Linked DNA regions of Homo sapiens. The protein of the gene in region 1 interacts with the protein of each later gene in a pairwise test. Each region holds a gene or a part of one and is shown on either strand. Other genes may lie near its edges.

Region 1 (3,431 bases):
CAGATTGTCACAGAGCATATGTCCTGCATGCACACACATGTATCCAGGGCACCGCCTGCCTGGCATGTGTTAGTAACTAATTGTTATTCATTTAATGAATTGATCAAAACTTGATATTTTTGTACAAAGAACATTTATCGTTCAGTATCTTCTTTCCTGCATGCTTTTCAGCAAATGAGATAAAAGACCAATTTTTTTTTTTTTTTTTTTTTTTTTTTTTTTTTTTTGAGATTTTTCGCTCTTGTTGCCCAGACCAGAGTGCAGTGGCGTGATCTCAGCTTACAACTTCCACCTCCCAGGTTCAAGCGATTCTCCTGCCTCAGCCTCCCAAGTAGCTGGGATTACAGGCACACTACCACCATGCCTGGCTAATTTTGTATTTTTTAGCAGAGATGAGGTTTCACCATGTTGGCCAGGCTGGTCTCAAAGTCCTGACCACAGGTGATCCACCTGCCTTGGCCTCCCAAAGTGCTGAGATTACAGGCGTGAGCTACTGCACCTGGCCAATAAAAGACACATTTTAATTAAAATAATGACATGTTTCTAAAATATTCTGAAATAGAAGGCACATCACAGAATTTAAATATTTTTCAATAAAATCTGTAATCAAACCATAGTTCAGCTTCCTCTGGGATATTGTGAACTATGTTTAAAATGCGACCGGAATTTTCCACTGCTGTTCATATTTTTAAATGCTTAGAATTAGAAAAATTAGCCAGGCATGGTGGCACATCGGGAGGCTGAGGCAGGAGAATCTGCTTGAACCTGGGAGGCGCAGGTTGCAGTGAGCCAAGATCACACCATTGCACTCTAGCCTGGGCAACAAAAGCAAAACTGCGTCTCAAAAAAAAAAAGAATTAGAAAAATTTTGATGTCTTAATTTCTAATAGGGTTAGACATCAGAAGTAGTAAAATTTCTAGCTACTGCCTGCATGCAAACCACTCTTAATAAATTCCCAGTTTATCAAAAAATAGTTTGGGAAATGAAAAACAGCAAATTTCTTGAGCAGTCAGGGCAACACTGTATATTCCATAGTGAAGTGCTGTATATTCCATAATGAGTTTGCACTTTTCAAATAACTAAAACGCATTTAGCACTGAAACTGGGCTAAGCAGAATTTATTTTTTCTTTGGTTCAGAATTTCAGAATCGTGGACTACCTCCAGGTCTTTCTGAACATCAGATGCCGTTCTAGATATAAAACAGAGACCCGGCTGGGCGTGGTGGCTCATGCCTGTAATCCGAGCAATTTGGAAGGCTGAGGCTGGGAGGGGGGTGGGGATCACCTGAGGTCAGAAGTTCAAGACCAGCCTGGCCAACATGGCGAAACCCTGTCTCTACTAAAAATACAAATATTAGCCGGGCATGGTGGCAGGTTCCTGTAATCCCAGGTACTCGGGAGGCCGAGACAGGAGAATCGCTTGAACCCGTGAGGCGGAGGTTGCAGTGAGCCGAGATTGGGCCACTACACTACAGCCTGGGCAAAAGAGTGAAACTCCATCTCAAAAAAAAAAAAAAAAGCAGAGACCCAGTGTTTGAGCAATGGGTGGTTTGGATTTAGACGCACAAGAGATGTGGATGGATTTAGACACAGCTCCCCGCTGTGGCCCGGCTGTAACTGTGTTCTGTTTCCTCCCCAGCCCAGCGACTTCTCCGTGTCCCTTAAAGCGTCAGGGAAGAACAAACACTTCAAGGTGCAGCTCGTGGACAATGTCTACTGCATTGGGCAGCGGCGCTTCCACACCATGGACGAGCTGGTGGAACACTACAAAAAGGCGCCCATCTTCACCAGCGAGCACGGGGAGAAGCTCTACCTCGTCAGGGCCCTGCAGTGACGGCGCCCCGGCCCCACACTCGCCTCCCGGGCCCCACGGTGGAGCTGCCCGCCCGGCCTTGTGGCAGAGGCTCCTCCCGCGGGGACGGCCCCGACGGCTTCTCTGCGAGTCTCTCTTTATGTTCAGGTCGCTTGGTCGGTTCGTCTCCCATTTGCCATCCAGGCCTCACACCCACACTCGAGCCCACCCGGCCGGCCAGCTTTAGAGGAGGGGAGGAGCAGGGCGAGTTCACATTATTCCTTTTCCATCGGAAGTGGCGCTCGTGCATTCAACTCGTTCCCGCTCATGGAACCCCTCTTTAAAAAGACGCAGGGCACCTGTGAGCGCAGGAGCGAGCCTAAGGCCACCCAGCGGCAGCGCCCGTGTCCTGGGCACTCAGCGTGCTGGGCAGAGCAGGTGCGATGGCCCCAGTCCTAGCAGCCCTCGCCCATGTCCTGTGCCCTTACATGGCTCCCGGACTGTGCAGGGAGCCGATACGTTTGCTGATAGCAATACTGGAACCACCGGGTGCGATGGCAGTGAGGAGACTGCCCAGTGCCTTTGGGGCTGTGCTTGCAATAAAGAATTTCCTGGAAAGGCAGTCTGCAAAAGAGGGAACCGGTGACTCAGAAAGACAGATGTTTTGGTAATTTACCCCAAATGTGCCATCCACATAGTGCTTTTTCCTCTTGCCCTTCGGCTTGTTTGAATCTCACAATTATGTATTTAATTCTCAAAGAAATATGTATCTGTAGCCGTTTGTTGACACTAATACAGATGATTAAGGAAAACAGCTGATCTTTGGGGAAGGGAGCTACCAACACTTTATACACACACACACGTGCACACACACACACACACACACTATATATATATATATTATTTACAGGGAAATTTTTCAGGGTTTACAAAAGAGTATGTGATTGGTAGTAAGAGACACACAGAATGTTTATGAAGAAATTGCATTTTCTTTTTCCTTTACATTTGAACTTCTTTATAGTTTAAATATAACGTCTTGAGATGGCACATTCCTACGATTGAAGAAGGGGTCTTGAGATCCCCTAAACTTGCATACCCAGTTTTTTGGATATTGTAATAAAAAAAAGTATTATGACAAGGCTCTGTGTGTATTTATCTTTGGGAAAACTCAGACTCAATCATGGGAGAGTAATTACTGAAGCATTCACTCATTGCGGAGTGGAAATCATTTTTAGAGAAGAGCTTAACATTTATTACTTGTGTGTTTTCATTTTCTACCCCCACATTTTTGTATATTGAAATAATGAGTTTTAATTAGTGAAACCCCAAGGGAACCCAGAATCTCAAGCTTGGTCTGAACTTTGCTCTTTGGAAAATATTTGTTTAGAAATATGTTGCTGAACTCTTGGCAGCCAGCGCTCTCACACCATGTGTCCCCCACGACTAACTCTCGATTTGTCCTCTTGATCGGGAGCATTTATATTGATGTGCCAGGCCCTGGGGGTGCAGAGTCACATGACTTGGCATTTGTGCCCTCCTAGGCCAATCACGTATCAAGCGCTCCCTCTGCACCATGCACTGCGCCCCCATTTGTTCCTCATCACAGCCCCATGAGGTGGGACCTGCTATCATCCCCAT
Region 2 (3,500 bases), on another chromosome or scaffold:
GGAAAAAAAAAAAAAACAAGATGGCAGCAGAGTTAACTTATACTACATCCCAGGAACCACTGAAACTATCCTTAAGATTTTTAGACATAAAACAGGTTACACTGTTTCAAAAGAAGAGAGAAAAAAAGCCTAAGTTACCAGAATCGTCCAGCTCCTGACCATGAGATATGCCGGCTATGTCTATTTTCTTCAGCTTCTAAGTCAAAAAAGCAATTCATCGACTACAATTCCAGATGTACTGCATTCATTCCATACCTTAAAATTTGGAAGTACTGTTTTTGCCTGCTAGTTTAAGAAAAATCTGACTTGTAATGAAAGTGTAGGAGTCAGATGGTACTACTCTTTCCCTTGATTTTCAAGTGTAAGAAAACAAAGCGTTGAGTGATTAAGTGCTCACACCCAGGTGCAACCTGTGCCCAGGGAATTTTAGGTCTCGCCCAACTAGTACGATGCCTTGTGGGATGCAAACAACCTCCTCTTATTTCTCTCTGTGACTAAGACAGGCAAGGGAAGATCCATGAAGGTTTCCTTGTGTCACCTACTCCCTGGCTCAACAGGTGTTGCTCTGTATGCTCATTCGTGTTACTGTACCCTTGATCCTGGTGAGAGAGTGGGATGATGGGAGGTGACAGCAGGAAGAGCCCCACACAATCATCTCCTGCTTTGCCCCATGATCCATTGAAGCACCTGCAGGCTAAGGAAAAGGGGCTCAAGGGCACTCCCAAACTGAGGTCCTCAGTGGGACGGGGACATATGTATCCTGTGCCCAGACTACGAGTTAAGACAGCAGCCAGGTATTGGCACGTGGCTTCCTAAGTGAACCACAACACAGTTTAAGTTTAGAAGGAAAAGCTCTTACATAAGCTTTGGGAAACAGGAGTAGGTAACAGCAAATGAGCTAAAAGAACCACTCAAGTAACAGGAAAATATGCCTCTGTGCTATATGGCTGGGTGATCAGAGAATGCTTCTAGGTCACTGCCTGTATTACTGGACCCAGGTGTTAAAGATGCCTGCAGCTTGGCCCAAGCCTGAGGGGCCCTGCTCTTGGTGGCTTCTATAAACAGCTGGGTTTGCTCCTTTAGCTGGTCTAGTTCTACCTGAGTTGCCTGATTCTGACGAATCAACTCCTTGGTTTTCAAAGTGATCTCCAGCAAACCAGATTTATGTAGGACTACTAGGGTATTCTGAAAGCGCCTATGTTTGCTCTGCCGCTGCTCTGAAAAGATATCTGGGCTGCGGCAGAGGTGCTCTGCAGCCCATAAAGGTGAGCTATAATTAGCGGACAGTGGTGAAAGGGGAGAGTTGCTCTCTAACCCATGGAGAGTGCTGTCTGATGCGCAGACAGGACTGGCGGGGGAAGCGAAGGTCAGACTGGGAGCTTTAGCCACGTGACTGCTGGATACCGGCTGAAGAGTCTGTGGACTTCCACCTGCCACCAGAGAGGGCACACCCTGCAGAGCTGAGTCCTCGGCAAGTTTGGCGCTGGGTGGTGCTGGCGTCGAGGGACTGGATGGGACAGCACCAGCCTTGGTTGGCTCACTGGAAGACAAGCTAGGCCCAAGTCTCTCAGTACAGATTTTCTTCTGCACTCCACTTGTTCCTTTTTCTTCTGGGCCAAGGGAAAGGCCCCTTTTGCCTGGATGTGGGGCTATTTTGGTGTAAGAATTCAGAATGGGCAAGTAGTTCCTGGAGTCGGACTTTTTCTCACCAGTGTGACATGGACTGACAGGAGATGGTACAGGTGGATGAAGGAATAAGAGCTGTGGCTGTGCTGAGATCACTTCAAAGGAGGGCTGGACAGTCCACGACTGGAGCTGGGATGAGCTGCTGCCCTGAAGACAAAGGAGGAGAGCAGCACACTACTCATTACTGCTGAAAGGATAGAGGAGTGAAGCTTCTGTCAAAGGGGCAAGTGGATACTCAAATGCTTAGAACAATTTCAAGGACAGTGCTTCTCTCACATAGTGGTTTGAACATCTATTTGTGTCTGATATCACAAATACTTTTTAAACTTTTTCTAAGGGAAAACTGGAGGAAATACCTATTTTTATTCAAGTGCTATCACTCAGAAAAATAAATGGGTAGGTAAAGTAATGACATAGCTAAGGTCACAACTGAAACAACAAAAATATGGATTTCCTGGTGTAAGTTAAAATGTGACTTTACACCAAAGTGTATCTTCATTTAGTCACACCTGGAACCTCTTTTACCTGAAAATAACTTTTGATTAAAAAGTAACATATTGGGCCAGGTGTGATGGCTCATGCCTGTAATCCCAGTATTTTGGGAGGCTGAGGGAGGTGGATCACCTGAGGTCAGGAGTTCGAGACCAGCCTGGCCAACGTGTGAAACCCCGTCTCTACTAAAAAATACAAAAAATTAGCTGGGCTTGGTGGTGTGCGCCTGTAGTCCCAGCTACTTGGGAGGCTGAGGCAGGAGAATCGCTTGAACCTGGGAGGTGGAGGTTGCAGTAAGCTGAGATTGCGCCACTGCACTCCAGCCTGAGTGACAGAGCAAGACTTGGTTTCAAAAACAACAACAACAACAAAAAAAAACAGAAAGAAAAGAAAAAAACCCATATTGTCAGGAGTCTATGGGTTCCTGTTTTTAAGGCAGTGACATCCAACAATCATAAAACCATTCAAAATAATAACAGCTACCATGTATTGGTGCTGATTATAGGTTACCACTATGTGTAATGTTTTACATGAGTTACTTAATCTATTTAAAACCCCATGAGGCAGTTACCATTTCCCTTCATAAACAGGGAACTGAGGCTTAGAAAGTCGAAAAAACTTGTTTTAAGTCATCAAGTTACTAAGTGATGCAGTTAGGATTCCATCCTCTGTCTGACTCTAAAACCCATCTGAGCCATTCTGCTATACTGCCTTTGTTTATTACTCCTCAATTATACATTATTTTTTAATTAAAGTATTGATTCAGACGAAATCTAATAAAGAAGGACATGGCTACTTGTCTCCAATGTTTGAAAGCCAATCCAGTTCCAACCTGGTCCCCAAAATCTGAGTATAGATAAAGCCAGGCAGAGGGCAAGCCTGACAGAGTTTCACATCATCAGTGGGGTCAGGTGGGGTCATTTGATTTATCTGAAGAACATTACGAACTGTCTTCCCATACATGTACATGCGCGCACCATTTTGCACACATTTCAGTTTCTTGGATGCAAGGTTAGGAACTTTAGGCCAGTTCATTTCCCATGCAAAGGCTGGAACGATCTAGAGTCCTCTTGATGTTCAAATATACTCCGGAATATACTAAGGCAAGCAATGCTAGGGCCAGAAACCATATTTCCTTGTCATAGGAGATCCAAAATCAAGAGGTCTTTTGAAGTAGAAATCAGCCTGTTCCAGCTCAGTCAGAAGCAAAACTTCATGCCCTCTCTAGGGATGACCTACAAGGCAAATGGATCTGGAAAATATCTAATGCATTGTTTTCCCATGATTTTACTGGACTGTACTTCCTAATGCTACTGTTATGC

What was found. Proteins that work in one complex are often made in the same cells at the same time.
Region 2: the proteins of NCK2 (region 1) and CIPC interact in binary tests that used the Homo sapiens proteins (3 or more experiments, as listed by UniProt).

What each region holds. Positions count from the first base shown.
Region 1 is NC_000002.12:105,891,342-105,894,772, forward strand, and holds the end of NCK2 (cytoplasmic protein NCK2), read left to right. Parts: intron 1-1,640; coding exon 1,641-1,835; 3' UTR 1,836-2,931; downstream 2,932-3,431. UniProt on the Homo sapiens protein: Adapter protein which associates with tyrosine-phosphorylated growth factor receptors or their cellular substrates. Maintains low levels of EIF2S1 phosphorylation by promoting its dephosphorylation by PP1.
Region 2 is NC_000014.9:77,111,758-77,115,257, reverse strand, and holds part of CIPC (CLOCK-interacting pacemaker), read right to left. Parts: intron 1,834-3,500; coding exon 940-1,833; 3' UTR 1-939.